Linked DNA regions of Homo sapiens. The protein of the gene in region 3 binds, or shares a complex with, the protein of the main gene of each other region. Each region holds a gene or a part of one and is shown on either strand. Other genes may lie near its edges.

Region 1 (7,868 bases), on a different chromosome or scaffold from region 3:
TACTTTTGGATGCTACGTGCAGCATTTGGGGAAAAAAAAAAAAAAAAAAAAAAAAGACTGCTTCTCTAAGTTTTATGAACTATAATCTCAGCCATCCTGTCAGCTTCATGGCTGGCCGCTGATCTGCAGATGTTGGCTCTCCCTGTTCCGCTCTTTCTAGCATTGCTTGGTTTTCTGAATCTATCCCAGCTACTCACTCCCATCACTGTTCTGGGATATGAAACTCCCTGACAGGGGGTAAGAATGCAGGGCTCCTTCCGTCCATCATATGATGACTTATTTTAGAACTATAACTTGGCTGGGCGCAGTGGCTCATGCCTATAATCCCAACAATATGGGAGGCCAAGGCGGGTGGATCACCTGAGGTCAGAAGTTCAAGACCAGCCTGGCCAACATGGTGAAGCCCATTTCTACAAAAATACAAAAATTAGCCAGGCATGATGGCGGGTGCCTGTAATCCCAGCTACTCAGGAGGCTAAGACTGCAGAATCGCTTGAACCCAGGAGGCGGTGGCTGCAGTGAGCCGAGATAGTGCCATTGCACTCCAGCATGGGTGACACAGCGAGACTCTATCTCGAAAAAAAAAAAAACTATAACTTGAAGATCTAAAACAGATTTTTAAAAGGAAGATATTTCATTAAAAATGCAGGTGGACATAACAATAGTTACCCATTAACCAAAGGAATAAGTATTTTCTTGCCATATATTTGGAAACAAAAACAGAGCCTTCATTATTTGCAGTTGAAAAAGAATGGAAGGATAAGAAAAGTTGCTGTTATTGCCATTAACAATTGCTAATGTCATTGTGAATTCTTACCAGAGGCTACCATTAACAGAAGAAGGTGTGTAAAGGTGGATTCTGTCACTTGTCATTTGCTGACTCAGAGATAGTATAAGAGCAGTAAAGTACACTGAGAAAAAGACAAATGAAATTACTAATAATTTTTAACAACCTGGTTTATTTTGAATTTATAGATTAATATCGAAAATAATCTATACTTTCATGACTGATGATATAAAAGAAATTTATTTGACCAAATAAATATATTTCAATAGGCCAGACATCCTTATATAAATTTTTGAGAACAATAGGTGCAGAAGGATCTTTTGAGACGTTCACTATTTCATCATTAGAACTGACAAGAACCTAGAACATCTTTTTAAAAGTTAAATGACTTGCTCAAGGTCCTAAAACTAGTTTTATTAATATTCTCAAAACTTAGAACAAAATGCATTCCAAATGATCAGAAAGATATAAAATATTGTTTGTTATTAAAAGGCCATACCCGCTGAATCTGTTTAATGTCAAGTAGAAAATACAAAAGTTAAAAAGTAAGTAATATAGTACAATAAATTAAGCTTTTCAAAGTTATTTAGATGAACCTCAATTGAAAAAATAATTCTATCAATATTATGCCTTTTATGTTTCTAATTACAAATTCACTGAACATCTATAGGTAATGTTTATAAGGAGCAGTAATACAACTTTTAAAAAAAATTATATTTATCCTGGTTCAAAATTATGGTATAACTGAAGTATTACACAGTTATCATGTTAAACTGCTTACTCACAGAAAGATGCTAAAGCTGTAGGATCCAGGGCCAAAAAATTTCGGATTGCTACTGATATTTTAGCAAAGTCAATCCTAGAAAATATAAAAGTTTCTTGTCACAGCGCAGTTGTAAACTTAACAAAACTTTACTTTCTTGACTATAGTTTTTTCCTTCTCTAGTCTAATGCTAGCACATATACTATTACTAGGTTTTAAGTAGCTACAGTGTATACTTAACACGCATGACAAAATTATCTAATTTACAAAGGCCACATAAAACATCTAACTAGACTACTTTGGACAACATTCCTTTGGGGTTAAAACATCCTAAAGAAAATTAAACTTGATCTATAAAATTTCATTAGTTTCTACCTCTTTCTATTACCCATATCATTGGGCTCTAACTCGGTGGATTTTTTTTAAAAGGGGCTAAATTGTGTTCCCAAAAAGATATGTTGAACTCCTAACCTGGAGTACTTATGAATGTGACCTTATTTGGAAGCAGGGTCTTTGCAGATGTAATAAAGATAAGATAAGGTCATTAGGATGAACCCTAATCCAGTATGACTGCTGTCCTTATTAGAATAGACACAGATACAGAGATACACAGGGGGAAAGTGCTGCATGACGATAGAGGCAAATATTGGAATGATGCATCTACAGCCAAGGAATGCCAAGGACTGTCAGCAACCACTGAAGTGAGGGGAAGGTCATGAAACAGACTCTCCCTCAGAGCCCTGGAAAAAGGAATCAACCCTGGCCACATCCTGATTGCAGACTGCTCGCCTCCAGACCCATAAGAGAATAAATGTGCTGTTTTCAGCCAGCCAGTGTGTGGTACTTTGTTACAGCAGTGCTAGGAGACAAATACAAATGCTCTGAGTTTCACCTATACCTGATTTAGATGACATTTAGGAACTTCTGAGTTGACTATATTTGGATGAAATTTTGGACTTATGAATTGATGCTGGAATGGGTGAAGTCTTTTGGGAATATTTTGTTTACAATGGTCTCATCCCCTCAAAAAAGAACAGAAGTAGACTGGCCTTAAAACTTTTTGAAGTAACATTGATACTCTATAATTCTATTTTGAAAACTATCATGGTCAGTGACACATTTTGCTCAGCATTTCCTCCTGAAGAAGTTAGACAGATCTGGAGTCATAGGCATTACCTGTCAAAAGCTGAAATTGTACTCAGAGCCAAAAGCAAGTACAGAAGACTCTGGAATGGATACGCTAGGGTCTTGTATTGTTGCAGAAGGTTTGAGAGGTTGGATAGCTGATCTCCTGCTAGAACATATATCACAACAATATTCCACACAGCACAGCCAGCCAAGAATCCATGAGAAAAGAGACCAATCATCCTGAATGGAAAAGGGTTTGATTATTATACATGAATTACTAAAGTAAAAAGCTAAAACATGTTTAAAATCTCTTCATATACAAGAATAAAATTCAACATTTCATGACAAGTAAAAGCAAGCTCTTTCTTTTTAGTTACACTGATAGGTAGATCACTCAATTCCAATAGGATGTTTAAAAAATATACCTACCTACCATTTTAAGTTGTGATTTCATTAATAATACTGAACAACCAAGAGGTTATTTTTTTCTTTAATTACAGAACTCAGTTAACATTTATTTTAAGAAAAGTCCAACAAAAGCAGCCACCTGAAAGCCCGGTGCACTGTAAGTGCCACATCTCTGGTGGTCCAGGAAGGCTTCACGTCCATTGACACATCTATGTTTTCTGTGGTCTTTATCAACTCTGAACGATCAGCAGCCTGGAATCTCCCTAAGAACACATAACGTAATTACTAACAACTAGCGAGAGAGAACCCTGGTAGCCATTTTTTTTTTTAAATTCCATACTCAGGAAGCCGCAAACTAAGACTGAAATATTGCTGTTCTATCTGAAAATTCTCCTTGACTCAGTACCTATTTCAGAAGGATCTTTTCTTGGGGTTCCTTAAACATAATTTTTCATCTTGAAGAAAAATAAGCGATGTCAGTGTATTTTCTTCTCAATCCAAAGTGAAGTAACAATTTCAGAAATCAATTATATTTAATAAAAAAAAATGAACTTTCAACTCAGAATAAAGTCTAGAAATCTTTAACATGACCTAGTCTACAAAATTCTAATTTAGAGACTTTAGAAGTATTAAAGTTTATATGCCTATACTATCAAGGTAAGTCAATATTTGAAAACTACTTTAAATTTCTTAGGAAAAGATGTCAGGATGTGTAGCATGGCTTTCTGGGATGACAGGAAAGAAATAGGCTGCTTCATAAATTTCTCTTTAGAACATTCCTGTGAAGAACATCAGTTCAAAAGTCAGCACTGCAATATTGTATGAGCAGGGCTTTAGCCTTTTTACTGTTGATTCAGAGGCTCCTTCTTGTATATCTAGTAATCCACAAATAGACCTCAGGAAACAGGAAAGGTTCCATTTCAATTATCCTCACCAAACCCAGTTCGCAGGTGTTTTGGAGGATGAAAGACAGGGGTGTGACAATTTTCCCTAAGAAAAGACAACTTCTGGGCAGACAATAGAACCACTGGTACCTTTTATGGCCAGTTACTCTAGCAGGGAAATTTCTATGCTAAGTGAAGCAAGAATAAAAATGAGGATTAAGTGATACTGCTTGAAAAAGAACTGCGGTAATTTAAATGACCACGTGGTAGATGAATAAAACCATGTGACTAGAAGTCATAAAACCACAGTTCAAGTCCCAGTTCCACCCTAACCAAACTGTGAGACACTGGGTAAGTCAGCCTCTCTAGACCACAGGTTTCTTATTGGCCAAGAACTGCAAGATCCCTTAAATGGGATCTTCTGAAGTAGGGTTCTAAAACAAGGTACACAAAATCTAAATTGTAAATTTTAAGGACTAACCTTTATGTTTCAGATGAGTTCTTTAGGCAGCATATGCTTAACATATCCATGGTAGTATATAGTCATGATCATGCTTTGAGTAGGTTTTTCTTAAACACTGTGTTATAGACGGAATGCGTCCCCCAAAAATTCATATGTTGAAGCCCTAACCCCCCAGTGAGTGCGAGGTCACTGGGAGGTAATTAGATTTCGATGAAGTCATGAGGATAAAGCTCCCATGATGAGATTATAATCCTTTTAAGAAGAAGAAGACACACCAGAGCTCTCTCTGCCACATGACGACACAGTGGCAGCTGTCGGCAAGCCAGGAAGGGGCCTTCTCCAGTAACCTAATCTGCTGGAACCTTGTCTTGCACTTCCTAGCTTTAGGAACTATGAGAAATAAATGTCCGTGGTTTAAGCCACTTAGTCGGTGGTATTTTGTTATAGCAGCCTGAGCTAAAATACACTGCAAACCTAGTATACATTATACAATGTCACAACTATCTTGCAAAAGAATATACAGCTATAATGTTGTATTTCTTATTTAATATGGTAGTATCATCATGTATTTTCTCTTATTGTCAATTGTAGAATTTATATTATTATCTGTCCCACCACAACTACTACCAATTGCAGCAAACTGGTAAAGTACAAGAAAGAATAAAGAATCAGGCAGGGGTGGGGAAGATCTTTACATTGCCCATAACCCCATAAATCCAGAAACAACCAGCATTAATATTTGAGCCTATTTCCTTCAAGTCTTTTGTCCTATGCATAGATCAAACTGTGTGTGTGTGTGTGCACATGTGTATATGCTCATTTTTTATCAGAATCTTTCCATAAAATGAAAAATTCTCCCTAAACATTATGTTTAATGGTGAAGAACATTATTATATAGATACACCACAACTTACTGACATTATTCCTCTCCTATTTCACATTTAGGTTGTTTCCAGTTTTTCACTCTCATGAATCATAGCATGATGACCAGTTTTGTGTATAAATTGTTGTACACAGTTTTGCTTAATTCCTTAATTCAGATTTCCAGAAGTATAAAGGATATCCTTGGACAATTTTTAAAGAGTTCATATTCTAAAACAAGGCATCTACTTACGGCTTTTTTCCACAAATACTTTGCCTACAGGCTGGCTAATGCCAGTGGGTGCAGTGAATACAGACTGCTGTTCCACAGTAGTTTGCTCATCAGTGATTATGTCTTCATCTTCTACTCCTAGCTCATTGGCATACTGTAATTCTGCTGGCTGGGTTTTCCTGTAATAAGGACGTATGTATGAAAAATAGATGATTATTGAATTTTTTACAGACTTACATAAGGAACTAGCTATAAATATAATGGAAAGGGCCCTGGACTTGGAGTTAAGAAATGTGGTTTTTACTCAAATAAATCGGTTATTAACTATTATGTGCAGCAAGTTACTTACATTTCTGAGGGCTTCAGTTTTCTCATTTGAAAATTGAAGTGACTGAACTAGATCTGTAAGCTTCTTTCCAAATTTAAAACTGTATGATTCTGTATAGATACTGATAAGGTTTGGCTATGTCCCCACCCAAAATCTCATCTTGAATTGTAATAATCCCCACCTGTCAAGGGACTGTTCTGGTGATAGTGAGTTCTCAGGAGATCTGATCGTTTTGTAAGGGGCTTCCCCCTTCACTCAGCTCTAATTCTTCTCCTTCCTGCTGCCCTGTGAAGAAGGGTGTGTTTGCTTCACCTTCCACCATGATAGTAAGTTTCCTGAGGCACCCCCAAGTCATGCTGAACTGTGAGTCAATTAAACCTCTTTCCTTTATAAATTATCCAGTCTCGGGTATGTCTTTATTAGTAGTGTGAGAACGGACTAACACAGACATTGATCACTATTTGTAGGTTCATTTTCAAATACAAATAATAGTGCTATATATATGACTTCCAGTGTTATTTCTTTAAAGTACACTACTCATTTTATCTTAATGCTAAAACCCAGTTTTACTTATTCCTAAAATAATCATAATTTGAATTCTGTTAACATAAGAAAATAAATCACAATAGCCTATTTCATTATCTTTAATTTTTAAATATCCTTAATGTTTAATTTTGCTACTTATATATTCTATTTGTGTTCTTCTTTTTTAGAGATGGCTCTTAAGTTTTTTTATTTAAGTACAATCTTAATTTTTTTTATTTTCTCAGTGGTTTACTCTTCTGAAATTTATCATTCGATTGGTTTAACTGATTTTTTGTAATAATACTTATCCTAGAGGTACACAAATACAAGTATGTAATAAGACTTAATGAGAAGCTACTGCTTCGGAGCTCCAAACAAAGCATCAGGGTAATCCTGGAGAATAGTTAGAAGAATAAATAAATTCCTACTTTGTCTTCCTCCGAGGTTTTTGAATAACTGCCTCCTCAGCTGGCTCCGCATCAATACCATTTTCATTTCGTAATAAAGATGAACTAGATGACTTCTTTTGGGTGGAGGAAGTCTCCAATTCTGAAAACAAAATAAATTTAACTTTTCAAATAACTAAAACATAAAAAGAAAAGTAATGTACAAGACTTGTATAAGAGAAAAGAACTTCAAGAATTTTAATTGGGCAAAAATGTTTTCACTATCTTACAAATTTTTAATTTTTTAAAAATGTTATACTTCTAAACTCTCAATGTAAAAATTGAAATTGTAATGCCAAACAATATGGAAAAAAATTAAGTAACCCAATACCCAGGCTGTGCTGAAGATTCCCAAGATTATCTCCTGGTTCGCTGACTTTCTAGAAGGGCTCACAGGACTTGGAAATCATCACACTCACAATTATGGTTTACTACAGCAAATGGATATAAAGCAAAATCAGCAAAAGGAAAAAGTACATGGACCAAGTCCAGAGGAAACCAAGTACAAGCTTCCAAGAGTCCTCTATCAGTGGAGTCAAATAGGATGTACTAACATTACTGGAGAGTAATGAGTTGTGACAACACATGTGACACATGTTGTACAAAAGAAGCTCATCAGAGACAGTGCCCAAGGTTAGGGGCTAGTCACATAAGCCTAGCACATACCAAAATTCTGGATGCCCGGAAGGGAAACAGATGTTCAGCAAAAATCACTATGTGTGCACAAATGCACCGTGAGTCACCTTATAATTTAGGGAAAGTTTTCTATCAGTGTAGGGAGCTGTTTATCATCCAAGTTCCCAGATGCCAGCTAACGGCCAATCTTATCAGCAGGCTTTTCCAAGGATAGCAGTCTCAGGTCTGCTATATTAACTCTTTTCTGCACACAGGGTAGGTATTAAGTTTAAATGAGTCAGTGAAGCCTTCTTCTAATCCACTAGCTACTCTTCCTACCTGGAAATACTAGCTCCCTGGAATACCTTCAAGACCTTACAATTCTATTGTAATAAAATACTTACAGCCTCGACTGGAAATATAATGCA
Region 2 (7,894 bases), on a different chromosome or scaffold from region 3:
AATATTGGCTATTTGGGGGTACGTTTCATATTTTTCAATTATTTTACCATTTTGCCATTACAGTCTTCTGACTTTTTGGCATATACTACTGGTATAGATTTAATGTAGAATATCAACATAAATCCTATTCAACAGATAATTATCATTGCCTCTTTTGTAGAATTCTATGTAAATAGCATATAAAATTAATGCATAAAATAAATAAAAATGAATCTCCCACAGATAAACTAATCTTATACAAAAACGGATTACCAAGGTTATAATTAGACACATCTCTCTTTTCAGCATACCCTAATCTTAGCCATTCTTTAAAGTCCAATTCAGTGTCATCTTTTCCATCAATACTTCCTTCATCAGTTCCCCCACCTCAGCAGAAATACCTTTCCCCTTTAGGTACTTACCACTCTAAACTGTCAATAAGAAGTGCTAGCAAAGAACCACACTCCCCTCCCCAAAAAACAGTCTGGTGTACTGAACAGATCATGGGCTTCAGAGTTCAAGCAAATCCGAGCTCCCCAAACCTCTGTGACCCTGGATGTCAGACTTGACATGAATTATTTAAACTCTTTGAGCTTCTATTTCTTCATCTGTAAAATAGTGAAATTAAAACTTCCTCACAGGCTGTTTGTGAGAATTAGAGCCAATATAAATTATTTCATCCTAGCACTGTGCCTGGCACACTTAGTAGGCACTCAACAAATATTAGTCCTCTTTCCTTCTTCTCTTCTACTTATCTACAGGCTCATTGCAAGCACACACCATGTCCTACCCTAATTTGAGACCCTCATAGAATCTAGCATCTTGCTTTCCACGCAGTGAATATCAAATACACATAAGAATGAATTAATGAAAGTATACTGTCATAAGGACATTACTAGCATAGCCATTTGTGATACATGAGTTCCATTTACCTAAGGTTGATTCCATAACACTTTCTGCTTTTATGTAAGAGAGCAGGGTCCTAGATTAAGAATTTGATTTTTAAAATTGAGCCCTACAAAATACATCCTAAATTTGACTAAATTCTTAAGAGCAGACACATATATTGAAATCAGTTGCTGTACACGTAAGATTTTAAAGGCTCTAAAATAAATGTCTTAAAAACATTATTTTCTCCTTTTCTCCATAGCTGAGTGTTTTTATCTGTCACTTAATTATTTTAAAATATAAGAAATAGTCATGGTCTCTCACAGCAAAATAGTTTCTTTTAGCTCCAAGAATATGCCTGATTATTATGATCTACTTTTGCTTGCAACTGTTTATTAAATTACCACTGATAAAGGAATGAATTCTTAAAATCTGTTAAATCTGAAGACAACTCACCAGCCTAGGATCTTTTCGATAGCAACAGTACAAAGCTGCGGACATGGTAATGACATAAACTTGTTATTACAGTACAAATAATCAAACCTACTTCCAATCCACAAAGAAGAAAATTTGGGAAAGAATAATAAATTGGGCAAGCTGAACATTTCAGTACCTTTGAGAAGAAACTGTAGTCAAATTTTGCAAAGAATGGTTTTCATGTTAGAAGTATTGTGTGTTAACATCTTAAAGGTTATGCTATGTCCATATTTCAGCAGATCAAACTTATAATCATGGAAATGAAAATCAAATTAATATGTAAATGAACCTTAAAAGCGTAAGACATAAACTTACTAAATTTTGCAAAAGTTCAAGTTGAGTTCTGTAAATGGAATTTAAATTAAAACATACAATATAAATCAGGGATAGGTAAACAACTGGCCAGCTGCCTGTTTTTGTACAGTCAATGAGCTAAAAATGTTTTTTCACGTTTAAATGGTTAAAAAAGTAATATTTTTTCCACACGTGAAATCCATATGAAATACAAATTTCAGTGTCCATAAAGTTTTATTGGAACACAGCCCTGCCTATTCAATAACTATTGTCAATGGCTGCCGTGGAGACCATATGGCCTACAAAGTCTAAAATATTTACTATCTGGTCCTTTTCAGAAAACGTCTTTTTACCTTGTATTATCAGACGTTAGTGCTCATTAAGCCTCATCCTTGGAACCAGAAACGTGAAAACCTATTTTTTTCACATTTTTCTCTGTACATCCTAAATCATAAAGGCCTACATTTGGGAAATAGGCAAGTGATCAAGGTGACAAAATGCAGCTTTGGGAACTGCCTTTACTTTTCTCTGTCCCTTTTAAAAATTCTCTAAAACCAAGCAGAGGAAAAGATTGATATTTCCCAGCAGAGTTGAATGATGAAAACCACATGGGTTTGGTTGACAGTGTGTTGTCTACCATCATGATGTAGGAGGAGGAAACTGTTCTGGAGGAAACTGTGTTATCACTTGACATCAAGTTAAAGGACGCAGAAGCATCATGGTATTTTGTTACCTTATGATAAGAGTTACATATAGGGGAGGAGGAGAAGGCAGGGAAGGGGTGAGTTTTGTTGAACGCCCGGCTAGTATGGCACATGCCAGTGGGAGTGGATGGTGGTTTGAAAGGACTCATTAACTTTTTTTTTTAATGTCTTCTACGAGAAAATGGCCTTGCTTAGGAACATACTTGTTCTGCTAGGAAAAGGGAAAAGGCAAATTTGTTCCCTGGGGTGGGGGTGGGGACGGGGGAGGTGGGATTGCTTGGGCTATTCCTCGTCATCCTGGACAGAAAAGCCGGGGCGGGCGCCGCAGAGGCAAAACAACTTGGGCCTTCGCTCTCGCGGCGCGCGGGGGACCAGCCTGTGCAGCAAGGGCGGCTTTTATCTTTTTATTTTTGGGGTTTCTCCGGGACAATGATGGGCCTTGCGCGGCACAGAGATCGGCCCCACGTCAGCTGCCGCGCTTGCAACAAGCTGGCCAGGGAGCACCACGCGGAGACCAGGCCCGGCCGGGGGCGGGAGGCCGCCAGCGCCTCAGCTCCCTGTCCGGCCCGGCCCCTCCTCCAAGGCGCTCTCCCGCACTGCGGAGAACTGGCTGAAGGCGACATCGCCATTTTAGGTACGGGCAAATTCTGGACGCTCCAAAATCCACGCCAAGCCCTCGGCAGGCCACACCCCCTGCACCGGGCCTCGGTCACTCACCCGGACCCTCATTGGACTCTGGACCGGTCCGATTGGAATCACTGAACACGGCCCGGCTGAAGTTTCCCAGCCGCTGGCGCACCGGATCCGGCAGCTCCATGCCTGGGCCTCAGTATCCCTCACCCCCTCAGACACGGGCTAGTCTGCGGGCGCTCCGAGGCTCCGTGGTTCCCACGGCAACCGGGCGGCGCGAGGCCGGCGGGACCCGGGAGCGCGCGGGGCTGCCCGGCTGGGCTGGGTCTCGTCCGGAGCCCGCGCAACCTGGAAGGGACCGGCGCGCTCAGAGCGCGTTCCAGGCCCAGGGAGCCGCGCGCCTCGGCCGTGTACAAAACGGCAGATCCCTTAGTTCTGCTTTGAGCTCGACCATCCTAAAAACAAACCTATACTAAGAAATGAGCTGGGGTTGGACTGCGATACAAGGAGCCCTCACATTTGCCAGTGGAACTGTAAATCGGTACAACCTTTCTGGAGAGAAATAGAGAACGAATGCAGAGCTTAAAGAATGTCTAGAGGTGTAGGGGTGTGTGTGAGAGAGAGAGACATCATGTGACTGATTATTTTTTAATAAGAAAACAGCAATGGGCAACTGATTAAATGTACTGGAGCACATACATTCAATGGAGTATGTTTCAGCTGCTTATAAAATGCTTGCAAAGGATATTGAATGGTATAGTTTAACTTTATGTAAAAATACAGCAGAAATAAAACTAAATGAGAATGAACCTAATTTAGCAAAATTTATGTGTATGAGTGGAGGGGAGGAGAGAGCGTGTGCACACTGGCTTGAAAAAAAGAACTGGAAAAAAGTCCAAAATGTTAACAGTCGTTTTCACTGGATAGTGGGATTGTAGGTGATTCAAAAATTTTTAAACGTCTTATTTTCTAGCTTTCTCTCAAGATATATTACTTAAAAAAAACTAAGTGTAATACACATACAGAAAAATTGTACACCTTTTGTAAGTAATATATATTACTTAAGAAATAAGTGTAATATATATACATAGACTGAAATCTGTATGTGTAATCAGCACCCTGTTCAAGAAACTTTACAATATTCCCAGAAACTCCCCCTTCCTATTTCCTTTCAGTCACTAAACCCACTCCTCACTCATAACTGACCTTTCCTGAATTCTAACAGCAAAGGAGAGTTTTGCCTTTTTTTTTTTAAATCAGAACATTTATTGTGTGACTAATCTAAAATTTTTTTTTTTTTTTTTTTTTTTAGACAGAATCTTGCTCTGTCACCCAGGCTGGAGTGCAATGGCACAATCTCGGCTCACTGCAACCTCCGCCTCCTGGGTTCAAGTGATTCTCCTGCCTCAGCCTACCGAGTGGCTGGGATTACAGGTGCCCGCCACCACACTCGGCTAATTATTGTATTTTTAGTAGAGACAGGGTTTCGCCATGTTGGCCAGGCTGGTCTCGAACTCCTGACCTCAAGTGATCCACCCGCCTTGGCCTCCCAAAGTGCTGGGATTACAGGTGTGAGCCACCGTACCTGGCCTGAAATTCTTAAGATGAACTGGATGCTGCAGCAGCTGTCCTCTTGGGTTTAGGTGGCATTCCTTTAAAAAATCCATGCCTTAACCTGCTGTACACAATTTTTAAGTGCCTCATTCGACCAGTCCCACTGGTATATTTTTTAGCCTCGGCACTCCAATTATACTTTATCTTGGCTTGGGAGGGTAGCCGCGTTTGCCACAGGCGGACTTTTGAAGGAGTTAGAGTCACAGGGCAGCACTAGCTGTGCATCTTATCGCACCACTTTCTAGATGATGACACTCCCTTTGTCATCTTGCTTCTGTTTTGCATATTTATATAAAAGCAATCATACTGTAAGTACTTTTTTAAAAAACTGGCTTTGTCTTCAACATTACTTTCATGAAATTCCTTCATGTCATTGAGTGTAGATTCTTTTGCCTTGCTCTTTGTGATCATACCACAATAAGCTTACTCATTCTACTGTTGATGAGTGTCTGTATTTTCTAGTTTGGAGCTGTTGTGTATAGTGCTGCTTTGGGGAAAAGATGCCTCTTGGTGAACATATGCATGCATTTTTGTTGAGTGTATATCGAGAGTGGAATTGCCGTGTCATAGGATACGAAAGACCCAGCTTTAGTAGAGGCTGCCTACAGTTTTCCAAAGTGATCAAACCAATTTCTGCTGCCTCCAGCAATGTGTGAATATTTCCATTACTCCATATACTTCACCAACACTTGTTATTTCTTATCCTTTCCTTTTAGCCCTTCTGATGGGTGTGTGGTAAAAGTATTATTTTTACAATCAAAAGGAAAATTACACATTTATATAAATGCAAGAAGAAGATATGGGTGGAAATAAGTTCATGACTAGAATTTTAAAATAATTACACAAACGTTTATTGCATTCCTACTGCTTATTTGGATATCGTGCTAGGCTAATTAGGGATATGGTCCCTCCTCATCAAGAAGCACAGCTCAGTGAAAGAGAGACATGGAAACAAGTAAGTGCAAACACTGTTATTAGACGTGCTCTATTAAAGGACCACGTCTTTTAATTATTAAAGAAGCAATTAATTCGGGTTGAGGATGTCAGGGAAAAGCTGGTTAACTTCTGCTTCATTTCAAGATGGAGTTCAGACCTGAGAATCTCCAAAAAGGCTTCTAGGACCTTCCTGAAATAGCTTAGGTGCTCTCTTCTGTGTTTCCCAAAGCATCTTCCTCTTGTTTCTTTGGTCACAGTGCTGGTCACTCTATACTAAAATTGTCTGTTTATGTGTCTGTGTCTCTTGCTAGTCCTCAAGCTCTTAGAGGTCAAGAATGGACTTTCATCTTTATATCCCCAACACTAGCACAGTGTGGTACCTGGCCATGAGTAGGAGCTGGATGACTGTTGAGTGAGTAAAAGGAAGAAAAAGCCTAATGACCACTCTCTTGTCTTCCCCTTCTAGTTCAAGGACTTAGCTAGCCCTTTAAAAGGTTCACTTTGTAAAATGGTGAATTGGTGTATTAAAACATAGTGAATCATAACAATTTAAAAAACCTTAGCAACAGAGAATCACTTTTCATTTATCAAATGAACCGAGATTTTTTATAAACGGAACAGTGAAGCAGGAGGCCTCAGGCTCAGCTGTTGAATTATAATTTGGCCAACCGCATTGAGACAAGTAATCGGCAATGTATAGAAATAGCCTTTAAAACGTTCCTGCCTCCTTTAACACGATAAAATCTTAAGGCGTGCTCTATTAAAGGAAAATAATCATAGAAACAAAGTTTTATACACCAAATGCTTCTCCAACATTATTGATAATTGTTTAGAAAAGAGGGGAATGGGCATTTGAAGTGCCCAACCACAGGGCCTCATTAAGCAGATTACGATATTTATGGCAAGGTGTTGGGCTGCAGTAGAAAGAATGTCCTTGGAAGCTGAGAGGGCAGGGTTCAAATACCCTAAAATTCTCGATGTACCACTTAACAGCTGTGTGACTGATTTCAGATACTCGTTTTGTAAAGTAAAAATAATGATATCTTACTGTTGTGGTTGATGTGATATTATATCATTAAGGCTCTCTATACATGATAGCTACCATTTACACATCAATTAAAATGAAGTTTATGAAGAAACAACACCTAGAGTGGAGTCAAATAATGCTGGTATTTAATTTTGTAAATTCAACTGGACCTGCTAGGTAATACCTCTGTTGCTTTCCTAATAAAGACAGTGGAGGCAGTTAAGCATTAAAGCACTCCATTATGTTAACCAAAAACCTATGTGAATTCTTATCAAAAACCTAAGTGAATTATTTTAAAGATATTTTCCCCTGGCATTGAAAAAAGATGCAAGATACCTTCTTCAGATTGTAATTATGTTATCAAAATCCTGGAGGAAAAAAAGTGATAGAATTATGGGTATTTTTCCTTCTAATTTTATTATTCAAATTTCCTATATGAGCGTACATTTTCTAGTTAGAAAAAAATCTTGTTAAAAATAAATTGAGAGGAAGAGGCAATGATGATGCAAAAACATTAGAGAAGATAATTTGAGAGGAAAAAAAATGTGGTTTGGAATGAGTCCTGCCATTATTGATGTATCATAAATGGTCCAAGGGGCTCAAAAAAACTTTCCAAATGTTATCTTATTAGTTGATACTCCCAATATTTATAGGCAATTACATTAGAAATACTAAAGGAGATCCTTCAGTGTTTCACTAATGTGATTGCCTATACAGGTGGGCATCCACATTCATGAAAAATGAAGAATTGTATGATTTGGGTTTCCCATCTTCTAGACCTACTACTTACTTAGGATCTAAAGAAAGAAGTATGGGCCAGGCACGGTGGCTCACACCTGTAATCCCAACACTTTGGGAGGCCAAGGCGGGCTGATCACAAGGTCAGGAGTCCGAAACTAACCTGCCCAATATGGTGAAACCCCGTGTATACTAAAAATACAAAAATTAGCTGGGTGTGGTGGCGGGCCCCTGCAGTCCCAGCTACTCGGGAGGCTGAGGCAGGAGAATTGCTTGAACCTGGGAGACAGAGGTTGCAGTGAGCTGAGATCGTGCCACTGTACTCCAGCCTGGGCGACAGAGTGAGACTCCGTCTCAAGAAAAAAAAAAAGAAGTACGGAATCTCTGTACTTAAAATCACGGGAATCATTTTAGGTTAATGAATAGTCCCATAAAGTTTAAACTGCTTAGTTCTTATACCAGTGTTGATGTTCAGAGTAATAGCTGTTTCTGCAATAGTTGTTTAATGTATTTCTTGGGGTTTAATTACATTTATTGTTTGCTTATTTGTTTTCACAAACATTTTGAGACTGATGCAATGATTAGCTTCCCTTTGATAAGGGACCAT
Region 3 (7,868 bases):
AAAAAAAAAGAAGTAGTAAAAGAAGGCTGTGTGTGGTGGCTCACGCCTGTAATCCCAGCACTTTCGGAGGCCAAAACGGGTGGATCACCTGATGTCAGGAGTTCGAGACCAGCCTGGCCAACATGGTGAAACCCCATCTCTACTAAAAATATTAAAAATTAGCCAGGCATAGGCTGGGCGCAGTGGCTCATGCCTGTAATCCCAGTACTTTGGGAGGCCAAGGCGGGCGGATCCCCTGAGGTCGGGAGTTCGAGACCAGCCTGGCCAACATGGAGAAACCCTGTCTCTACTAAAAATACAAAATTAGCCAGGCATGGTGGCACGTACCTGTAATTCCAGCTACTCGGGAGGCTGAGGCAGGACAATCACTTGAACCCGGGAGGTGGAGGTTGCAGTGAGCCAAGATCATGCCATTGCACTCCAGCCTGGGCAACAAGAGCGAAACTCCGTCTCAAAAAAAAAAAAAAAAAAAAAAAATTAGCCAGGCCCGTGGCAGGTGCCTATAATCCCAGCTAATGGGGAGGCTGAGTGAGGCAGGAGAATCACTTGATCCTGGGGGGCAGAGGTTGCAGTCAGCTGAGATTGTGCCACTTCACTCCGGTCTGGGCGAAAGAGTGAAACTCAATCTCAAAAAAAAAAAGAAATTAGTAAAAGAATAGCAAGTTAAACCCAAAGAAAGCAGAATAGAATGAGAAACAGCAGAAATTAATTCATTAAACAGAAAGCACACTTACAACAGAAGAGATGAAAGAGGCAAAAGTTGGTTTTTAAAACTGAAAACCCCAAGTTAAGACGATGAAAAAACAGGCTAAGTGGGGTCACTCACACCTATAATCCCAACACTTTGGGAGGCTGAGGCGGTAGGATCGCTTGAGCCCAGGAGTTCAAGACTAACCTGGGCAACATGGTGAGACCCTGTCTCTACAAAAAATAGAAAAATTGGCCAGGCACAGTGGCTCAAACCTGTAGTCCCAGCTACTCGGGAGGCTGAGGTGGGAGGATTGTTTGAGCCTAGGAGTTTGGGGGTGTAGTGAGCTATGATCATGCTACTGCACTCCAGCCTGGGTGCCAGCGCTAGACCCTATCTCTAAAAAATAATAAGAAGAAACAGAAGACAGAAATGGCAGGAATGAAAAAGGAACATGTTACAGATCTTGCAGACAGTAAAAAGATAAGATATAAAGAACAGCCATTTGCTATACATTTGGCAAGGTAGATGAAATGGTCAGATTCCTAGAAAAAGATAACTACCAAAACTGCAAAAAAGGAATAAGAATCTGAGTAGTCCTATGTCTATTAAATTGAATCTATAATTAAAAATGTTCTCACAAAGAAAGTTCCAAGTCCGAGTGTCTTCATCACTGAGTTCCACCAGGCATTTAAAGAATGACACCTTCCATGGCAGAAGTGTAAGAAAAAAAAGAAGAGGAAGTAACGACAGATTTACACAAACTCCTAGAATTGAAAAGATTAAACATTCCCCAGCTTTTTTAGGTCAGCATAGTTTTGATTCTAAAGCCTGCTGAGGACATTAAAAAGAAGAAACTCCTTCATGAACAGAGTTGCAAAACTCCCAAACAAAATATTCAGAAACTGAATTCAAAACTCCTAAATGAAATATTCAGAAACTAGCAAGATAAAAAAAGGATAATATAATACATCATGAGAAGTAGGGTTTATTCCAAAAATACAAAGGTTTTATGACATCTATAGTTGGCCAGGCACAGTGGCTCATATGGAGGCCGAGGTGGGAAGATTGCTTGAGGCCAGGAGTTTGAGACTAACCTGGGCAACGTAGCAAGACCCTGTCTCTAAATAATTCACCACATTAAAAAGAAGAAAAGTCAGAGTCAGGCCAGGCACCATGGCTCACACCTGTAATCCCAGCACTTTGGGAGGCCGAGGCAGGCAGATCATTTGAGGTCAGGAATTTGAGACCAGCCTGGCCAACATGGTGAAACTCCTTCTCTACTAAAAATACAAAAATTAGCCGGGTTTGGTGGCGCACGCCTGTGATCCCAGCTACTTGGAAAGCTGAGGCAGGAGAATCGCTTGAAACTGGGAGGCAGAGGTTCCAGTGAGCCAAGATTGCACCACTGCACTCCAGCCTGAGTGACAGAGCAAGACTCCATCTCAAAAAAAAAAAGAAAAAAAAAATCATGATCATCCCCATAAATGAAGAAAACACATGGTAAAATTCAACTCCCATTCATGATAAAAGCTTAGTAAACTAGGAATAGAAGGAAGCTTCCCTAACCTGATCAAGATTATCTATGAAAAGCTTAGAGCAAACATCACTTTTACTGGTGAAATGTTGAAAGATTTTTTCTGCAACCTCGGCCTCCTGGATTCAAGCGATTCTGGTGCCTCAGCCTTCCAAGTAGCTGGGATTACAGGCATGCACCACCATGCCCGGCTAATTTTTGTTTTTGTTTTTGTTTTTATTTTTGAGATGGAGTCTTGCTCTGTCTCCCAGGCTGGAGTGCAGTGGCACGATCTCAGCTCACTGCAACCTCTGCCTCCTGGGTTCAAGCAATTCTGCCTCAGCCTCCGGAGTAGCTGGGACTACAGGCACATGCGACCACACCCAGCCAATTTTTGTATTTTTAGTAGAGATGGGGTTTCACCATGTTGGCCAGGCTGTTCTTGAACTCCCATCCTCAGATGATCCACCTGCCTCAGCCTCCCAAAGTGCTGGGATTACAGGTGTGAGCCACCGCGCCTCGCCTAATTTTTGGATTTTTCATAGAGAAGGGGTTTTGCCACGTTACCCAGGCTGGTCTTGAACTCCTGGCCTCAAGTGATCTGCCACCTCAGCCTCCCAAAGTGCTGGGATTACAGGCATGAGCCACTGCTCCCAGCCTGGTCTTTTTTTTTTTTGAGACAGAATTTCGCTCTGTCGCCCAGGCTGGAGTGCAGTGGCGTGATCTCAGCTCACTGCAAGCTCCGCCTCCCGGGTTCACGCCATTCTCCTGCCTCAGCCTCCTGAGTGGCTGGGACTACAGGCGCCCGCCAGCCTGGTCTTTTTAATAAATGGTGCTGGGACAATTTGATATACATAGGAAAAAACTTCAGCCTGTCCTCATACACACAAGTCAATTTCAGATGGATATGTAGCATAGAGGACTATAGCCATGATATCAGGGTAAGGGAAGATTTTCTGGCAGGACTCCATGAAGGAGAAGATCAATGAAGTTGACTATATTAAAATTAAGGGCTTATGTTCATTCAAAGACATCACTAAAAATGAAAAGATAAGTCACAGGATAAACACACATATACACACTATAAATCAATAAGAAAAAGGCCAGGCCAGGCAAGGTGACTCACACCTGTAATCCCTGCACTTCGGGAGGCTGAGGCAGGAAGATTGCTTGAGCCCAAGAGTTTGAGACTAGCCTGGGCAACATAGTGAGACCCCATCTCTACAAAAAATTTAAAAATTAGGCATGGCAGCACACGCCTATAGTCCCAGCTACTTGGGAGGCTGAGGTGGGAGGATCACTTCAGCCCAGGAGGTTGAGGTTGCAGTGAGCCATGATTGCACCACTGCACTCCAGCCTGGGCAACAGAGCAAGACCCTGTCTCAAAAAAAAAAAATGTTTTTAATGAAGAAAAAAGAAAAAGACCATCAAGTAGAAAACCGGGCAAGAGACTTGAGTAGGTTCTTCACAAAAGAGGACATCCAGGTGACCAAGAAACAGGTAAAGGTCTCAACCTTATTTCAGTAAGAAAAATCTAAAATGAAGGAAAATATAAGTTAAAGCTACAGTGAGCTACCACTATTCTCTCACTAGGACGGCTCAAATTTAAAAGATTGGTAATGCCATGTTTTCGTGAGGTACAGAGGAGCAGGAATCAGATACCACTGCTGGGGGAGTGCTGGCTGATAGGACCATGCTGGCAGCTTGGTGTTACCTTTTGGGAGGGAACATACATGGGCCCTGTGCAGTGTCATTCTTGGGTGTGTGCCCACCAGAGATGTGTGCACGCGAGTACCGAGAGCCTGCGCCATGGTGCTCAGCACTGGGTGCGTGGCCCCCAGAGGAAGGGCAGCCCATGTGTCCATCAGCACTAGAATGAACAGTCATTGTGACAGATTCCCACGCAGAATGTTATATGGTATTGAACATGAACACGCCCCTTTACAGGAAACCATTTGAGAAAATCTAATGGACATAATTTTGGATTAGAGTCTGGGCACAAAAATAAATGTACTGTATAATTCCTTTTGTATAAACTTTCAAAAACATTGGTAAAGGTAAAGTACCAGGTTTGGGATGCATTCTTTGGCAGTGAAGTCTTAAAGAAAAGTAAAGAGGTAGTTTCCTAAAATTCAGAATAATGGTTACCTTTGGTGGAAGGTAGTAATGGGAAGGGCACAAACCTCTCCCTAACATTTACTGAGCACTCACTATGCATTAGGTACTATTTCATGTGTTTTAGAGATGATGAAACAGGGGCAGAGAGGTTGGCTAACTTGCCTCAGTCGTGGCTGCAGGATCAGAGCCTGTCAGGCCGGCTCCTAGTCCCTCCCTGGGCCTCACCTGAAACTGGCGAGGTGAAAGTGCCTCATGCGCCTCAATGGCAACACGAAGCGGGTGTAAAAACAGCCACACCTATTATAGTACCTATAATATTTTAAAGGAAAATGCCCAGAAGGTTTTTCTTTTCTCTCTGACTTCTAGACACCCCCAAAATGAGCCCCTGCCACCTCAGTCCCATGAGCCCGCCTCCATCAGGAAGGGAGCACCCAGAGAGCAGAGGTCCTTAGTCGGCCCTGATCATAGCTGGGGCCCTGGGCCCAGATAAGGCCTCTGGAAGTGCCTCCTTGTACATGGAGTGACTGAGTGGGCACTGACTCCATAGCGGTGAGAAGGGGTGTGGAATGTGTGCCCAGGCCTCAGTGGAGACACAGGAAGTACCAGGGTGGGCAGAAGTCTTTGGCACAGTCTGGGTTCCCATGCCTGCTCCTGTCCCCTCTCAAGCCTGCCACCCCAGAGTTTTGAGCTCCATCCTTTGAGCACCCTCAGCTGGACACGCCCTGTTCTCTGCCCTGCACCTCCCCTGTGTGTCCTCATGTGCCCACCCCCTGCCTTGTCCTTCCCAAGGGCCACAGATCGTGCTCAGCGTGTATGGACCAGATGTGTTCGGGAACGATGTGGTTCGAGGCTATGGGGCCGTGCACGTGCCCTTCTCACCTGGCCGGTAGGTCCTCATTCTGACCTGGGCCCTGGGCAGGACTTGTCCTAGGACAGACTTCACCTCGTTTTCTGTCTTAGGTTCAGGCTGGGAATGCTCTGGGGTCTCCAGGGGCCTGGGCAGCTCAGCCTGGTGGCCAGGGGGGTTGTAGCCTGTATTTGGGAGGAGAACCTTTCAGATGGGTGGTGCCAGCCACACACCAGGTGGGTTGGGGAGGTAGTGGGACCCAGAAAAGAAAAGACCCTGAGGGACTCTGACCTCCATGAGGCTGTCTCCTGGCGCTCAGCACCTTGCCCAGACACAGGGGGTGCTCAGTTAGCACAGGTTGGATTCGTTGACATTGGCCCTGACTTGGCCCACGCTGCAGCTGCACTGGCCTGATCTGAGGGTTTCTTCTCCCTGGAGGCTCAGAAAGGTCTCTTACTCAGCATCTCTGTCTGCAAAAACATTTGTTTCAGGCACAAAAGGACCATCCCCATGTTTGTCCCAGAATCTACGTCTAAACTGCAGAAGTTTACAAGGTGAGTTTTGTACCCATAACCCCAGCCCCTCCTGATCTACTGGATGAATGGATGTCCCATTCTACCCCTCAGTTTGTGCCTGGTCGCCTCCTCAGATCTGCAAGCTGCTCCACCCACTGAGGACAAATAGAAACAGGTCCCCTGGGAGTGCTGAGTCACGGGGCTCCCTTCAGCCCTGTTCCAGCAGCAGAAGGCCGGGCGATTTTACCCTGTGCCCTGTGAAAAATCTTTGTGTCTGAGGGAGCAGAGGAAAAACTCTTGTCAGATGGGAAAAATGCTCATGACATAATGTGACATTAAAAGGTGGGAAACAAGAGGATATAGCAGTATGAGTCAGACACCTTGGAACAGTAATCATGATAAATGCCTTTACATGTGGGAGTCTCTGGCCGGAGCTGACATTTGCGCAGAGGCTTAGTGTGGAGGGAAGAGCCGGGGAAGAACATCAGGCACAGGGAACAGTGCCTGCCAGGCTGAGGAGAGCGTGAGCTTAGCATGCTAGAGAAGCCAGGACGGTGGTGTGGCCAGGACGGCAGTGTGGCCAGTAAGTGGTAAGCCAGGCAGAATGAGGGAGACATCAGGGAGGCAGGCAGGGGCCAGGACACAAGGGCCTGCAGGGAGGGCCCAGGGGATGCCTGGATGCAGCCCCAGCATGAAGGCCTCTTACCCCTGCTCACATCCAAGTGGGAGCTTAGAGGGCCAGCTGGGCCCTGGCCTTCTGACTCGAGGACCATTAGCGCAGTTGGGCAGCAAGCCTCTGCCGCCCACCGGCAGATTAGTGAGGCACAAGTGGAACATGGAGGACTCCCTGGGTTCCAGGGCAGCAGCCGGCAAGCAGCCCCTGCGAGCCTGGCCAGTACTGGGCGTGAGACCAGGCCAGAGCCCTGCTGGGTGGAGGGACAGCATCGCGCCCAGGGCCGAGAATGCTTCACTGAGCTCTGAGAGCCGTGGAGGGGAGGAAGGGCAGGGTCTCCGCTGGCCTCAGCCTGAGAATTTGTGTGCCTACTGCCCCTAGGAGTCCTTCTGGGAGGCCACCCTGTAGCAAAGGACTTCTTTCCCAGATGACCTGGGCCAGTATCACCTGGAGGTGACAATCCCCATGCCACAGGCTGTCAGGGAGGCAGCGAGGCAGTGCCCATCAGTGGGTTGGGAAAGCCTAAGAGACTGGGGACCCACACAGCCATCCAGGCTGGGTTATTCACCCTGTTCCACCGCCCACAGCTCCAAGGAGGACTTTGGGCCTCCAGGGGACAGCTCGCTGAGGAAAGGGTTTCACAGCCCCTGTGGAGGGGCTCGCAACTGGGCAAGGCAGTATGTGCTTGGATTACAAAAACTGGAGAAAGTTCTGATTAGTGAAGGCAGTTTGATTGGCAGAATCTTCCCAGATATGGAGGCTCCTTGCTCAGGCTGACACCTCGGTCATCCCCACCCCTCTCCCAGCCTCTCCCCACATCCTCCAGCGCTGGCCTAGGGCCTGCCCCAAACACTCTTGGCCACTGTATTCGTTTCCCACGGTGGCTGCTGCAACAAAACACACAAATGTGATAGCTGAAAACAGCAGAAATGTATGCTGAAGGCCAGAGTTCAAAATCCAGGTCACTGGGCCCAGAAAAGGCACCACAGGGCTGTGCTCCCTCCCAAGGCTCTAGGGGAGACTCTGTTTATTGCCCTTTCAGTTTCTGGTGGCCCCAGCCTTCCTTGGCTTGTGGCCTCATCACTCGAGTCCTGGCCTTTAGGGTCCACCTGGATAGTCGCCTCAAGATCCTTAGCCTAATCATATCTGTGCAAAGTGCACGTGACCCTGTTTCTCAATAAGGTCACGTGCACGGTTTCCCAGGACTAGGATCTGCTATCTTTGAGGGGCCGTCATTCAGCCTGCTGCCACCCCTCCAGTCTAGTCTTCACATAGCAAGAAAAACGGTGTTCCTAAAACACAACTGGGGCTGCACCCCTCCCCTGCTAGAACCTGTCTCTGTCAGAATGAACTTCAACCAGAATGCTGCCAGGCCGGTGGTCGGGCCCTGCCTACCTCATGGCCTCTGCCCACTTGCTTCCCATCTACCTCAGTTCCTGCAGTCTGAGGGGTCCTTCCTTGCCTCAGGTCCTTGCCTGGAATGCTCTCCCAGAACAGCCTGTCTTGTCTCC
Region 4 (7,868 bases), on a different chromosome or scaffold from region 3:
CGCCAGCCGCTGGGCTTCCCGCTAGCCTTCCAAATAAACTTGTGGTTGTCAGGCAGCGGGAGCCAATCCCAACACCAACCCCTGTCGCCCCTGTCCTTTGCAGGAAGGGGGAGGGCTGTCAAGGAGGAGGAGGGCCAAGTGCCCAGGCTGTTGGGTGAGGGCCAGAAAGAACCTGTTGTGACAATGCTTTCTTCCCCCAGTGCTGCTGAGGGGGCTGAGAATGAAACAGCCCCTCTGACTTCAGCCTGCCATCCAGGGGCACAGACAGAGGGAAAAATAGGGCAAAGAGCCCAGTCACAGTACGGCAAAGATCCAGGGCTGCTCAGCTGAGCTGATGACAGATGACTGACTGTTGGGCTGGGGCAGGTGGACGGTCCAAGTGTCCTTCAGCGGCCCTCCCTGATTGCCTGTGCTAATGCGGCCCTTGCCCTTGGGCCCTGCCCCTCCAGGTCTCCAGTTAAAGGCCTCAGCTCTGGAAATCAAAGCTGTGAATGGGAAATGGAGAAGCCCAGGGGTGCAAAGTGCTAGTGATTGGCATGTTTGTCACAAGAGAGCCCTGAAAAGAGTAAGAGTGGCTCACAACAGAAGGTAGAAATGCACAGTGTGTTCCTCAGTTCAACAGAGGAAAAGTCTCTGCTTGACCAGAGATGGGACTCTTTCCAAGATGTCTGAACTGACTGCAATTTTCTCCTGAAATTCAACGCTAAGGCAAAGAAGGAAAACCCAAAAAGCTAATTATAGCCTCCAGGAACTCTCAGACCTTTCCACAAACTAGTCCCTGACAATTCTGCAGGAGCTCTGAAGATACGGAACTGTGTAGAGCAAAACCGGAAAGAACCGTTGTCTCTGAGGGAAAAGCACACAAGCCCGCAGGTGTCCGCTGGGCTCTTTCAAAAGGTCCTAAGATGTTCCCAGAAGATGACAATGAGGCAGCCACGGTCCTGCTGAGTCTTCAGAAATGGCCTTTCTAGGATAAGTGCTCCTTACACAAGTCTCCCCGGGGCGTCACTGTCACAGGAATGGTGGTCACCACCTGATTCTGAAACACGAAGATCTTGATTCTTTCAAACACCCAGAGGAAGATAAGCAGGATGCTGACATACTGCACCCAGGCGAACTTTACCATCTCCCAGAATCCTGGCTGATAAGTATGGACAGTTAAGGAGTGAAGGGCCACATGGTGTTAAGTATGAAGAGAAAATCCAAGATGGAATTGGCTGTGGCAGAGGTATCTCGAAAGGAGGCAGGACCTCTGTCATGTACACACCCAGATGGAAGCTGACCTGAACTTGGCCAAATGGTAAAACCAGCCACATTTGATTTGAGCTATTTATATACCAAGCCTGATGACCAACCTCCTAAACAGACAACTATGCCAAACTAGATTGATCATGGACTAGAGATATCCTGAGCTGTTAACCAGCCATCCATCCATCTTCTAAAATCTTCCAGTTGTGTAAACTTGGAACACCCTTAGCCCCTGCCTAATTGCACCTGTACGGAACACAATTTAGCTGCTTCCTAGGTTTGTGTCTCTGGAATTGTAATTCCTAAGACCCCAGTTAAAATGCCTTCTCTTTTGTTTGCTTCTCTGCAGTGTTGGTGTTGGTTTCATTTTCCATTAGTCGACCTAAGTCAAAATTAAACCAAAGTTTAGGTCAGACAGGGACTGGCAAGAATGTTTCACATAACCTTAGCATAAAAGGGATATCATATGATTATTAAGACATAAATATGGATGATTCTTACCTAGAAGAATTGCTTGGAAACAAATAGGACCAAGACATGAATTATTTGTTCCTATATGAATAGCAGACATACAGTCATTTTCTGAGACATGTAGCCTAAGATGTCAAAGACGCAGCCATTTTTATGAGGCTATAACCCTGTCATGATTTCCAAGAGAAAACCTCCCACGTCTGTTACTACTTGAGACAACTAAGGAATCATTCCTCTTTGAAAACTGAGCTACCATTGATTTTTTTTAAATTGTTGTTTGCTTTAAGAGGCAGGGTCTCACTCTGTCACCGAGGCTGGAGTACAGTGGCACAATCATCGCTCACTGCAAGCTTGAATTCCTGGACTCAAGCAATCCTCCTGCCTCGGCATCCCAAGTAACTGGGACTACACATGTACGCCACTATGCCTGGCTAATTTTTTTTTTTTTTTTTTTGGTAGAGACAGGGACTCACTATCTTGGCCAGGCTGGTTGTGAACTCCTGGGTTCAAATGATCCTCCCACCTTGGCCTCCCAAAGTGCTGAAATTATAGGCAGGAGCCACCACATCCAGCCTTAACATGGACTCTTTAACAGAAAGGATATGAAATGACTTCCACAGGGTATCGGATGATAGCATTAATCACAAATGGAGCATCTGCGGCCCTGCCCACCAGCCAGATGGGGTTGGGATCATTCAGGACGGTGGTAACTGCAATGCAATCATTAACCATTAACCACGATGGCTGTTTGACTCTGGCAGTTGAAGGCTATAAAGATTATTTGATACCTGGAAATTATCCTGTGCTTCAGAACTGAAAGAAATCATTCGGAAGGAAAGAGAAATTGCATGTGCAAAGCTGATCACACATTATTTGTTAAAATAATAGTCAAAATACTTTTGTTAAAATACATAAAAAACTTGGAAAGAGTTTCTTCTACATGTGCTGAATGGCTAACTGAAGGAATACTATACTGCCACTAAAAGTAGTATCACAGCTTTGTAGCTGTGTGGGGAAGTATTTATATTCCAAGTTTAAATAAATAAAAGTAACTTGGATCCCAATGTGTTTCTACACTACAATGGCTGTATAAAAAGATCTGCAGAAGGCTAAAGAATGAAAGGAATGAAAAAATAGTTGATTTGTAGGGCAATGTTTTCTACTTTTGTTTTAAAATTCCCTCTATTATTGCAATAATGCCACTAGTATATGCCATAAAATCAGTAAGCAATACTGGATTTGCAGTCATCCCCCTTGTGAGACGTCTGTGTATAGTCTCCATGATGTCTGCTTGCCAAGTAACACTGTAGATGCTTTTAGAGAAAACCTCAGCCACCGACCAGACAAACGTGCCGAGTCCACACATGCCATGGCCTAGAGCTCTGTAAGGAATAAGCACACTGTGCCTTCTGGCAGGAAACAGGGGCACTCCTGTTCTCCTGCTGGACTGCTAATGTGGGGAGAGTCACCCACGTTCTCTGTTTTTCTCTGAAAAGCATGAACAGCAATTTGTCTTTGGCATCTGTTATAGGTGTGGATAGGTGTGGTATGGGGAACAACTCAATTAGGCTTATATTTTTTAAAAGAGAAACCCACTAAGCCAGTGGTGGGATAATGATGGCATTTAACCATCACTAGCCTGCTGGACCATGGGATGCTGGAGGGGTGGGGGCGGTCCCAGGTCTGAAGATCAGGACGAAAAAGACAAATCCTGGACAGCATATTTGCTCCCATCGTTGAGCATTCACGGGTTTTGACATTTTCATCACAAGGGTTCCAGTTCTGCTTGTCTCTGTTGCCCCCACTAACCTTGAAAGTCCTGAGCAGCGGCTGAATGGGCTCTACCTGTGACTCACCGTTCCTCTCCTGGTAGGCAGCAACAATATGGGTGAGGTCGTAGTCATAGGCAAAGGGGCTGGTCCCGTTGATCACGGATATCTGGGACACGGGAGGAGGATGTGGTGTGAGCACCTGGGAGACTCCTCCCCTTTTCCTTCTACCCTTCTGCCCACCCAGGCTGGTCCCACAGAGCACCCTCTTGTTCTTGGTGGCCTACTGCAGTATCAATAATCTTTTCTTCAAAGATGAATAAAACAGGCTGCTGCCCACCCAGGCTGGTCCCACAGAGCACCCTCTTGTTCTTGGTGGCCTACTGCAGTATCAATAATCTTCTCTTCAAAGATGAATAAACTCTCTTGCAACAATTTAAGCCCATTTACTCTCAGTCTTTCTTTCTGTGGATGGAAATAAGGGGTCAGTGTCCATGTTTTACAGGTTTTAAAGCTATTTTTAAAATACCCCTCTTTATCTCAGCGGGAGAAAGAATTCCTTAAATTATTTTAACAGACCGTATTTTCGCCAGGTGTGGTGGCTCATGCCTACAATCCCAGTGACTTGGGAGGCTGAGGCAGGAGGACCACTTGAGGCCATGAGTTCAAGGCCGTAGTCAATGATGATCATGCCACTCACTACACTCCAGTTTAGGAAACAGAGAAAGACTTCATCTCTCAAAAAAAAATAAAAATAAAAAAAAATAAAAAGCCAGGCATGGAAGCTCACGCCTCTAATCCCAACACTTTGGGAAGCCCAGGCAGATGGATCACTTGAGACCAGGAGTTCGAGACCAGTCTGGCCAACATGGTGAAACCCCATCTCTACTACAAAGAAAACAAAAATTAGCCAGGCGTGGTGGCATATGGCTGTAATCCCAGCTATTCAGGAGGCTGAAATCAGAGGATCTCTTAAGCCTGGGAGACAGAGGTTGCAGTGAGCCGAGATCATGCCACTCCACTGTAGCCTGGGTGACAGAGCAAGACTCTGTCTCAAAAATAAAAATAAAATACAAATAAAAACCCCTACACAAAGACAAAAAAAAGAAACCATACTTCCAACTCCTTTGTCATTTTCTTGGTCTTTTCTGGGTGCTAAGTTCTTTATCACTTTTAAATATAGAGATATAGATAAAATGCAAACCATAAGCATATAATCCCTTAAAGGAGGAAATAATTGCTTGCTGTTAATGTAATCTGATATATAGACATTCAAACAAAAAGTGCCATATTCATTTCATATGTTGCAGCTTCCTATTCTTTACAACTTATATTGATTATAGTCAGAGCAACAGTAAAACCCACTATATATCTACAAGTCTGGGTTTATGGCTGTAATAACCGATAACATCCCTTTTTCATTTTCAGAAGTACCTCAGCTCAACTTCTATGGTCCCCATTGTGATAAAATAAAAGTGAGGAATGAGTGATTAGATGCATGAGTTCTGCACACAGACAGGCTCTGTTATCTTTCAAGATTTGAGCCTTTGGGAAAATTAATCACTTTAAGCCCCAGTTACGTCTTCTGCAAAATGAGTTCATTATTTAAACAAGTATCTCTGTGAGCTTACCATCTGCCAGGCAGTGTGCTAGGCACGGATGTGATAGTATTTGAGATGCCACTGCTGTCAAGGCTGAGGGAGACAGCAAATAAACACACAAACACATATCCTGAGTAGGCCAGGCGGCAGGAGGGAGAGTCTGGCTGAGGAATGGTGGAAGGAGGGGCTGCTACTGTAGAAGCAGGTCAGAGAAGGACTGGGCTTGGGGATATCTGAACAGGGACCTGAATGGCATGGTCCGATAAGCCACATGGATGCCTGGCAGAGGAAATGGCAAAAGCAAAAGCCCTGAGGTGGCAGCTGCTTCTTGGGTTTGAGGAACAGCAAAAAGGCCAGGGGGGCTGGAAGGGAGCAAGCGGGGGCAGTGATGGGACAAGTGGCTGGAGTGCGGGGAAAGGACAATGCAGGCAGCTCAGAGGTTGCCATGATGATTAAAGGAGATGATATAGGTAAACGCCTGCACTCAGGGGTGGCATATGTTATGAGTTCAGTAAACTATGGCTAGTAATATTTCTGAAATACTTTACATGAACATTTTACATCATCATTTTACAGTGTCCTTCGGAGTACATCCTGCGTGTGACCAAGCGTGTGTATGGAAGACACAATGTGTGTGTGTGCACCCACGTGGACCTAAAAGCAATAAGCAATTTAGTTCTTCGACAAACACAGATTTTGTTTCTCTTCCCTTCTAGGTGTAACTATGCGTGTACCTTCTCTGTAGTTTGAAAAAATTCATGGCAAGAATTCTACAGAGACCCTCTTTGGTGCCACCCACAAAGAAATGATATTTCTACTTTTCTTTTCTTTTTCTTTTTTTTTTTTTTTTTTTTTTTTGAGACAGAGTCTTGCTCTGTTGCCCAGGCTGGAGTGCAGTGGCGAGATCTCAGCTCACTGTAACCTCCACCTCCTGGGTTCAAGCAATTCTCCTGCCTCAGTCTCCCAAGTAGCTAGGATTACAGGCACGCACCACACGCCTGGCTAATTTTTTGTATTTTTAGTAGAGACAGGGTTTCACCAGGTTGGCCAGACTGGTTTCAAACTCCGGACCTCAAGTGATCCATCCGCACATCTCCGCCTCCCAAAGTGCTGGGATTACAGGTATGAGCCACTGCGCCTGGCCTGACATTTCTACTTTTCATTCCCCTCTTTAAAGAACTTAATGAACAGTAACACAGAGAAACAAAGGAGCTGGACAATGAGAAGCGCTCTTACGTTGTATCGGGCATCTAGGCCACCACAGCTCAGCGGCTGCTTCTGCTGCAGCCTCAGGTCTCCGTTCACGTATAACTGGGATCCCGGGACAGGAAAGGAGGACTGGAGAAACGCCATGCTCTGCATCACGAGGGTCGCCATCCTCTGAAATCATTAGAAGGACCAACAATACCAACCGCCATCAGATCTGAAGGGCTCTGGGTGCTAAGAGTCACCTGTCTTGGCTGAAACCTAAGAGGCCCTCACATACCTAGCGTAGCCATGCAGGAAACACTGCCTAGAACCTTCTGAGCTATTAATAGCCCATGTCAGTTAATATGACTAGTGAAAACCATTCCATTGGCCTAAGTTAAATCCCAAACTACATGGGGAAGAGGGCCCGCTAGAGTGCGGGTCTTCTAGAAATCAGAAGAAGGACTCTGGTCTACTAAAAAGACACAAGGGAGAGGACAGCCTCCCAGCGGACTGACTCACGTGTAATCGATAGGAGAAAGTCAGGATGAGCTGCACACCGAGAACGTGCTCCGTGGACTGCAGGGGAAGCTCCAGCTTAAAATGTAACATGTCCGTCTTCCCATCCTGGTTCCTGTCTTCTTCTCTAGTCTAGGAAACCCAAACAGGCCCAGCAGCCCTGGTCACTAATGAGTCTGGGAGGAATCCACATCACTTCTGTAAATACACAATGACCCACTGTCTTGCTGTACACAACAGGCATTATCTCCTCCACTAAAAGAGAAAAGCAGATAGATGTAAGTGCATTAATACTGGGGAGAGACACAAAGTGCATGGTCCCTGAACTTCATATCTGGGCCTTTCAAATGTTCACTGGCCAAAATAAATGGGCAATAACAAAAAACATCTGGATAGTATTTGTGCCTTTCAGTTGTCTCATGTGATCTTGCTTATTTTGCACTGATATTTTTTTCTTTTTTACAAATATGCCTGAATTTGTATGGAAATTTTAAGTAGCATGTCAGAATAGTCTTCTATGTCTCTAGAAGTCAACTTGTTAAAATAGAAAAACACCTAATCCTAATCATTATGCATTCCTCCAACAAACTCAAACTCAACAGAAAATCACCAAGCTCTATTTTTTTTTGTTTTTTTTTGAGCCGGGGTCTAACTCTATCGCCCAGGCTGGAGTGCAGTGACGCAATCACGGCTCACTACAACCTCCGCCTCCCAGGGTCAAGGAATTGTCCTGCCTCAGCCTCCTGAGGAGCTGGGATTACAAGTGCCCACCACCATGCCCAGCTAATTTTTTTATTTTTAGTAGAGACTGGGTCTCACCATGTTGGCCAGGCTGATCTTGAACTCCTGACCTCGGGTGATCCGCCCACCTCAGGCTCCCAAAGTGCTAGGATTATAGGCGTGAGCCACCGCACCCGGCCTTACCAAACTCTGTTTATAGATTCTGAAACCACGAGTGTCTTTGCTTCAGATTCTTGATGTTGGATCTTATCTCATCATTCGTGTGAGGACCTGAAAGCCTTGTGCATCTTTTAGTAGCAATCAATGAAATGAAAAAGGAAGCTATGTCAAA

The links.
Region 1: B9D1 (region 3) and TMEM237 share a complex: the UniProt entries of both Homo sapiens proteins name them as parts of the tectonic-like complex.
Region 2: B9D1 (region 3) and TMEM17 share a complex: the UniProt entries of both Homo sapiens proteins name them as parts of the tectonic-like complex.
Region 4: B9D1 (region 3) and TMEM231 share a complex: the UniProt entries of both Homo sapiens proteins name them as parts of the tectonic-like complex.

Annotation. Positions count from the first base shown.
Region 1 is NC_000002.12:201,626,504-201,634,371, forward strand, and holds part of TMEM237 (transmembrane protein 237), read right to left. Parts: intron 6,929-7,868; coding exon 6,808-6,928; intron 5,706-6,807; coding exon 5,548-5,705; intron 3,350-5,547; coding exon 3,226-3,349; intron 2,919-3,225; coding exon 2,727-2,918; intron 1,647-2,726; coding exon 1,573-1,646; intron 912-1,572; coding exon 818-911; intron 1-817. UniProt on the Homo sapiens protein: Component of the transition zone in primary cilia. Required for ciliogenesis.
Region 2 is NC_000002.12:62,502,971-62,510,864, forward strand, and holds the start of TMEM17 (transmembrane protein 17), read right to left. Parts: upstream 3,226-7,894; 5' UTR 3,160-3,225; coding exon 3,060-3,159; intron 1-3,059. UniProt on the Homo sapiens protein: Transmembrane component of the tectonic-like complex, a complex localized at the transition zone of primary cilia and acting as a barrier that prevents diffusion of transmembrane proteins between the cilia and plasma membranes.
Region 3 is NC_000017.11:19,345,124-19,352,991, reverse strand, and holds part of B9D1 (B9 domain-containing protein 1), read left to right. Parts: intron 1-5,111; coding exon 5,112-5,208; intron 5,209-5,660; coding exon 5,661-5,723; intron 5,724-5,795; coding exon of another isoform or gene 5,796-5,853; exon of another isoform or gene 5,854-6,042; intron 6,043-7,868. UniProt on the Homo sapiens protein: Component of the tectonic-like complex, a complex localized at the transition zone of primary cilia and acting as a barrier that prevents diffusion of transmembrane proteins between the cilia and plasma membranes.
Region 4 is NC_000016.10:75,539,027-75,546,894, forward strand, and holds part of TMEM231 (transmembrane protein 231), read right to left. Parts: intron 7,052-7,868; exon of another isoform or gene 6,929-7,051; coding exon 6,800-6,928; intron 6,470-6,799; coding exon 6,326-6,469; intron 3,658-6,325; coding exon 3,576-3,657; intron 2,430-3,575; coding exon 2,324-2,429; intron 1,149-2,323; coding exon 968-1,148; 3' UTR 1-967. UniProt on the Homo sapiens protein: Transmembrane component of the tectonic-like complex, a complex localized at the transition zone of primary cilia and acting as a barrier that prevents diffusion of transmembrane proteins between the cilia and plasma membranes.